Linked DNA regions of Homo sapiens: region 2 is reported to be linked to region 1. The links are microRNA targets in miRTarBase. Many come from high-throughput screens and were not tested one by one. Region 1 holds a microRNA gene; the other region holds the end of a gene's coding sequence.
What was found. The annotated mature microRNA hsa-miR-718 reads CUUCCGCCCCGCCGGGCGUCG and lies in region 1 at 2,607-2,627, shown strand. An mRNA with a match to its seed (bases 2 to 7 or 8) in the 3' UTR can be bound and repressed. Matches are read on the target gene's strand: a 7mer-m8 pairs with bases 2 to 8, a 7mer-A1 pairs with bases 2 to 7 and ends in A, and an 8mer does both.

Region 2: the mRNA of HOXB8 is a reported target of hsa-miR-718. Seed matches in the 3' UTR shown: 7mer-m8 at 1,785-1,791.

The regions. Positions count from the first base shown.
Region 1 is chrX:154,019,052-154,022,554 of GRCh38, reverse strand. It overlaps MIR718 (microRNA 718), which reads left to right and starts at 2,566; the gene lies at 2,566-2,635. IRAK1 (interleukin 1 receptor associated kinase 1) reads left to right here and starts at 2,653. Exons shown (of 14, transcript NM_001569.4): 1 at 2,653-2,878; 2 at 2,957-3,124; 3 at 3,227-3,358; 4 at 3,477-3,503. The coding sequence starts at 2,743. MECP2 (methyl-CpG binding protein 2) reads left to right here. Exons shown (of 3, transcript NM_001110792.2): 3 at 1-982. RefSeq lists enhancers at 1,534-1,603, 1,719-2,688 and silencers at 2,374-2,753, 3,104-3,203, 3,214-3,283.
Region 2 is chr17:48,610,595-48,613,594 of GRCh38, forward strand. It overlaps HOXB8 (homeobox B8), which reads right to left. Exons shown (of 2, transcript NM_024016.4): 2 at 1,752-2,915. The coding sequence ends at 2,608. HOXB7 (homeobox B7) reads right to left here and starts at 423. Exons shown (of 2, transcript NM_004502.4): 1 at 1-423. The coding sequence starts at 324. RefSeq lists enhancers at 1-115, 116-935, 936-1,756 and a silencer at 1,550-1,599.

The sequences.
Region 1 (3,503 bases):
CCATGGAGGGGGCTTGCACTCTCTTGGCTGTCACCCGATCGCCAGCAAAACTTAGATGTGAGAAAACCCCTTCCCATTCCATGGCGAAAACATCTCCTTAGAAAAGCCATTACCCTCATTAGGCATGGTTTTGGGCTCCCAAAACACCTGACAGCCCCTCCCTCCTCTGAGAGGCGGAGAGTGCTGACTGTAGTGACCATTGCATGCCGGGTGCAGCATCTGGAAGAGCTAGGCAGGGTGTCTGCCCCCTCCTGAGTTGAAGTCATGCTCCCCTGTGCCAGCCCAGAGGCCGAGAGCTATGGACAGCATTGCCAGTAACACAGGCCACCCTGTGCAGAAGGGAGCTGGCTCCAGCCTGGAAACCTGTCTGAGGTTGGGAGAGGTGCACTTGGGGCACAGGGAGAGGCCGGGACACACTTAGCTGGAGATGTCTCTAAAAGCCCTGTATCGTATTCACCTTCAGTTTTTGTGTTTTGGGACAATTACTTTAGAAAATAAGTAGGTCGTTTTAAAAACAAAAATTATTGATTGCTTTTTTGTAGTGTTCAGAAAAAAGGTTCTTTGTGTATAGCCAAATGACTGAAAGCACTGATATATTTAAAAACAAAAGGCAATTTATTAAGGAAATTTGTACCATTTCAGTAAACCTGTCTGAATGTACCTGTATACGTTTCAAAAACACCCCCCCCCCACTGAATCCCTGTAACCTATTTATTATATAAAGAGTTTGCCTTATAAATTTACATAAAAATGTCCGTTTGTGTCTTTTGTTGTAAAAATCAAGTGATTTTTTCATAAGGTTCTTTTACTATTGGAAAAGATGGGCAGCACGCAGTTTTATTTTATTTTTGTAAGTTTTTTAATACATGTGAAAGCAAAGAATACTCAGCATGCCTTTCTAAGTGACGCGTTTGCACCTTTTGTTGGGAAGTACTGTATCCTGTGCTGTTAGCATTCTCGATAAATCTCTCTGTGAAAGTGACTCAAGGTCTGGGCTTTCATTATAAGACAGAAGTCCCCCTCCAGCTCACATGACAGCATGGTGCTGCGTTTCCTCATTGGATCTGGCTGTCCCTGGACACAGGTAGCTGCCTTCAGGCCTGCCACGAGCGGCCAAGGGAAGCCTCCTCCATATGCTGGCCTCGCTGGCCCCTCAGCTTCTTCCAAGCCAGTGCTCTCCAGGCACACTGCTCCAGCGTGTGACGGGAAGGGCCTGGCATGAGTCAGCCTGCAGCACAACCTCCCTGCTCCAGACCCGTATGGTAGGGGCACCCCCTAGGTCTGGATGTGCTGTGGTGCTTTTGGACACCCCCACCCCCGCAGGCTGTGGCTCCTCCTGTGTCTCATTCTGGCCAGGACCCTCACGTGCCCTCTGTTGACTGCTAACGTGGTTCTCTGACCAGGCAAGGGCAGGCTGAGGGGTTTGCCCAAAGGGGGCCCCCTTGTTACTGGCTTCCTTGGCTCTCAGGAGCAGCCTCACCAGGTTGGTAAGGGGCTGGAGGAGACAACTGCTCAAAGGAGTCCAGCTTCACATGCACATGCTAGAAGGTACCCTCGGAAGGCCTGGCCTTCAAAGGTAGATCCCAGGGTTGAAAAGTCAACTTGTATGCATTGAGCATCTCGTATGCCAGCCCTGTTCCGTGAGCTGATGGGCCTTTGTGTGTAAGTAGGACCAAGTGCCCCCGTGGAGGTTAGCATGGGTGTGCAGTCATTTCAGATACTTGAGTTGGTACATCTCAGTAAAGTCTGTCCCGTGAGAAGCCATGGGTTTCATGGTATGGTTGGCATCTTCCTTGGGAGTGGCCACAGTGGTGGTGGCTTCAGGAAAGAGACTCCAACAGGGGCCAGCTGTGGGCCTTGGGCACTTCTCGTTTCTAGGAAAAGTCCTAAGTCTGTAGGGCTAGGGGTGGGGAACCCCTTCGCTGTCAGGATCAAGAGGGCAAGGGGAACTGTCGCTGGAGGAGACATCCAGCTGGAGAAACAAAAGAGTAAGTCTGCGTTGCTGCTTGTGGGGTCTTCCCCATCTCAGGGCGGGGACCGGGGGTGGCGGTCCAGACAAGTAATCAAGGACGATGCCCAGGAGGGGACAGGTACGGGGTGGCAGGAGCTCTGCCGGCGGGCTCAGGAAGCCTTCACCACAGCTGCCTGAGCTCACCCTTGCCAAATGAGGGCTGGGGCAGCAGCAACGCATACACTCACGGCTGTGGCGGGCAGCGTTCTCGGCATATTTCAGGACACCTAAGGAGACTGAATGGCTCAAGGCTGCTGCCGTGTGCAGGGGGCTAGACGTGGGGCGGGCAGGCAGGGCTCCTGGTAACAGCCCTGCAGGCCGCAGTGGAGAGCAGGGTTCCGGCAGGGCCGCCCAGGAGCTTTCGGAAGGCCCGGCCCCGGCCCCTTTCCGAGCAGCCCGGGCCTCCGCCCTGCCCTCTGTCCCCAACGCCGGGAGCCGCCGTTCGTCCTCCAGAGCCCCGCCCGGGCGAGCCCGGGAGGCCGATCGCCGCTCGCGGAACCCGCCGGGACCCGGGCCCTCCCCGGCGCGGGGCGCCCCCGTGTGACCCAGCGCGCGGCCGCGGCGCGCAAGATGGCGGCGGGCCCGGGCACCGCCCCTTCCGCCCCGCCGGGCGTCGCACGAGGCCGGCTCGAAGGGGAAGTGAGTCAGTGTCCGCGGACCCGGCCGGCCCAGGCCCGCGCCCGCCGCGGCCCTGAGAGGCCCCGGCAGGTCCCGGCCCGGCGGCGGCAGCCATGGCCGGGGGGCCGGGCCCGGGGGAGCCCGCAGCCCCCGGCGCCCAGCACTTCTTGTACGAGGTGCCGCCCTGGGTCATGTGCCGCTTCTACAAAGTGATGGACGCCCTGGAGCCCGCCGACTGGTGCCAGTTCGGTGGGTGGCGGCGGGCTGCCGGGGGGCGGGAGGCGCGCGGGCTCCTGGCGCCGACGCCTGACGCCCCCCGCCCCGCAGCCGCCCTGATCGTGCGCGACCAGACCGAGCTGCGGCTGTGCGAGCGCTCCGGGCAGCGCACGGCCAGCGTCCTGTGGCCCTGGATCAACCGCAACGCCCGTGTGGCCGACCTCGTGCACATCCTCACGCACCTGCAGCTGCTCCGTGCGCGGGACATCATCACAGCCTGTGAGCGCGGGACTCCGGGCACCCCACGGCTGGGAGGCCGGCGGGCCCCACGGGGCTCCCCCACCCGGGCCTCAACCTTCCTTTCCTTCCTTGGCGTCCCAGGGCACCCTCCCGCCCCGCTTCCGTCCCCAGGCACCACTGCCCCGAGGCCCAGCAGCATCCCTGCACCCGCCGAGGCCGAGGCCTGGAGCCCCCGGAAGTTGCCATCCTCAGCCTCCACCTTCCTCTCCCCAGGTAAGAGGGCCCGGTTGTTAGGCTCGGTGGACCCAAAGAAGAGCCCACCTTGACCACGGCCACGGCTGTAGACCCTGCTGCTGGTCTCTGCCTGCCTCTCACTGGTGTCTTTATGAAGCTTTTCCAGGCTCCCAGACCCATTCAG
Region 2 (3,000 bases), not on the chromosome of region 1:
CGCCGCCTTGGCGGAGTCGCCGGGACACACCCCGGAGAGGTTCTGCTCAAAGGGCGCGCAGTGCATGTTGAAGGAACTCGGCTCGAGCCCATAGCCGGCCGCGTAGACGCCGGCCGCGCTCTGGCCCGCCATGCCCCCCCCGCCGGGGTACAAGCCCTGCATCGAGGCGGCGAAGGAAGCGCCCGAACCCGCTCCATAGCCCGGGCGCTGGGGGTTGGAAGCAAACGCACAAGAAGTTTGTTCTGGGAAGGCTCCGGTAGCGAAAACCGAACTTGAGGCTGGATATTTAGAAAATAAAGTATTCGCATAATACAATGAACTCATAATTTGGCCGGATGATTTGTAGGCAGGGACGTTTTAGTGTCGGTTTTACGAGATTCCTTGATATATTACAGAATTAGAGTCCAGATTTACACCAAAAAGGACCCCCTTTTTCCTCTCCGGACCACGTGACCCCGCCCACGTGACGTCCCCTCCGCCAATGGCCGGGCCGTCTCCCCACGGCTCCCGGTAATGTGGAAAAAATTGTGTGGCGTTGGATTTATAAAATATGATCAATAATGAATGGGAAAGCCGAGCCCTGTGGATTGGGGCTGGGGGCTCAAGGGCCGCTGCCGACTCCCGCGGGCTGGAGGCCGCTTGCAGGCGAGATTTGGGGAGGAAGAGATTGAGTGGAAGGGAAAATAAATAACCTCGGGGCGATCCGTGTCACCCTCCACCCATCCTCTTCAGCCCGTTACCGAGCGAGAGACAAACGCAGGGATTGAATGCACGCAACTGGGTGGGTGGGTGCTTGGGGCAGGTCTGTTCTTTATTAAACCAGGCCAATTCTGCACGGCAAGGCCTTTTGGGGAAGTTGGTCCGGTTCTCCCAAGACGAGGAATGAGGCGAGCCTGGCTCACGACTCTGTCTCTCTTGGTGCCCCAGATATGCGGGCGGAGATGGAGCAAGTCTTCCTAGGTGCTCCTAGGGCACAGGATCCAGCCCACGGGCCTTGGACGCTGCCGTTTCTGGTGGCAAAAAAAAAAAGAAAGAAAGAAAGAAAAAGAAAAAAAAAGGTTTGAAAGTAAAAGAAAAAGGGGGTTGGGAGGGTGGGGAGAGAAAGGAAGGGTGGAGGTTGGCCCGGGCGCGCTGCTCTCCCGGTTCCCGGAGGCGGATGCCTCAGTGGAGCGTGACTACCAGAGAAGCAGAGGCAGCGAAGGAAGGAAGGCAGAGAGCCATGGCCTCAGAACAGAGCGAAGGTGGCCAAGTCCCTGAGAGGGAGAGGCAGGGAAGAGCGGTCTCCCTTCTCCTCCTGCTCCCCCAACAACAACAGTCCGAGGGAAAAAAAGTATGCTCAGCAGGCCTGCACTCCACCTTTATGCCTGCCCCCCACCCCACCTCCCGACACACATCTTGGGAGGACACACAGCAAAACAAAGAGGGAGGTGGCGGGGGACACAGCCACCAGCCCAGCCGCAGGTCTCCAGCGTGGCCTGGGCGCCCTGGCCTCCCTGGCCGGGCAGCCTCGGAACGCGAGAGGAGGGGGTTTCTCTTGGCTCCCCTCCCTCGTTTTTCTCTCCTCCAATCAGGCTCAGCCGCCTCCCTCACCCCCAGCGCCCCTGGGCCGAGGGACTCGCACCACCTGCCTCCAGCCCCCGCCCCCTCCTCTCTGCAGCCTAGCCTCAGCAGGCGCAGGAGCCCGGTGACAGGCTCCCCACCGGCTCTGCAAGGCACCCGGGAGCAAATGAGGAGCGCTGGCCGGGCCAGTCTCGGGTTCTCGCTTGTAAACTTTATTGTAACTCTTCCGCCCTTTTCAGGCGCAGACAACAGAACAAAGTATAGAGGAACAACAAAATATATAATTAGCCCTCCCTCCCCCCCATAAAGCAATTCACGGATACAGAATACATTCTCTTCACAGTAAACCTAAGAACACTTGTAACAATTGCCCACAGCGCGCATGCTAACTAAAGTAACCTCTTTTGAGAAACACTTAAGACAAAATTGTCAAACCAAAGGGGGTGGGTGGAGGAGGAAAAGAGAGAAGCCAGAGAGAAAGCCAGCGAGCTGGGGGGTTGCAGAGGGGAGAGAGGATTGGGAGGGGAAATGAGGACGCAGCGAGAGAGAGCGAGAGCGAGAGCGAGCGAGCGAGAGAGAGAGAGAGAAGGGAGACAGAAAGAATTACGGCGTGAATAGGCAGTTTCATGTTGTTGGGAGAACTTAGCAGAAATCGGTACCTTGGTCATTACAAAGAAGCACGTTCAAAGGAAAAAAAAGACAATTGCACAAGGAGGCTTTTTACACGGGGAGGGGAGGGGCATGGGGGGCTCAGCCGGGCCTTTGCCGCTCGCCCTCACAGGGCGAGGGAGCCTTTGCTTAAATCCTTTTCTTTCCCCCCGGCCCCCAAGAGAAGGGAAGGAGATCCACGGTAGCTCACACACAGAAGCTATTACGAGATACTACCACTAGCGGGGACTGGCGCGGCGGGGGACGCTGCGGTGGGAGGCCCGGCTCCTGGCCCCGCTAGCGGGGCCAGAGCTCTCTCGGGCAGGGGCGCGCGGCGGCGGCGCGGCCGGGACCCGCGGACGTGCGGGCGGCCGCGGCCCTGGCAGTCCCAGCTGAAGCCTACTTCTTGTCGCCCTTCTGCGCGTCGCCCTCGTCCGCCGCCTCTGGGGCCCGCTCCAGCTTCTGTTTCTCCAGCTCCTCCTGCTCGCATTTGCTGCTGGGGAACTTGTCTTTGTTGTTCTCTTTTTTCCACTTCATCCTCCGGTTCTGGAACCAGATTTTGACCTGTCTCTCTGTCAGTCCCAGGGCGTGCGATACCTCGATTCGCCGCTTACGAGTCAGATAGGGATTAAATAGGAACTCCTTCTCCAGCTCCAGGGTCTGGTAGCGGCTGTAGGTCTGTCGGCCTCGCCTGCGTCCGGCGGCTGCTGGGAATGGGGGAAAGGGCGAGACAGAGGGGAGGGGAGGGTGGGGGAGGGGGCAGGGACGGAGAAGGTTGGAAGATTCGTGAAC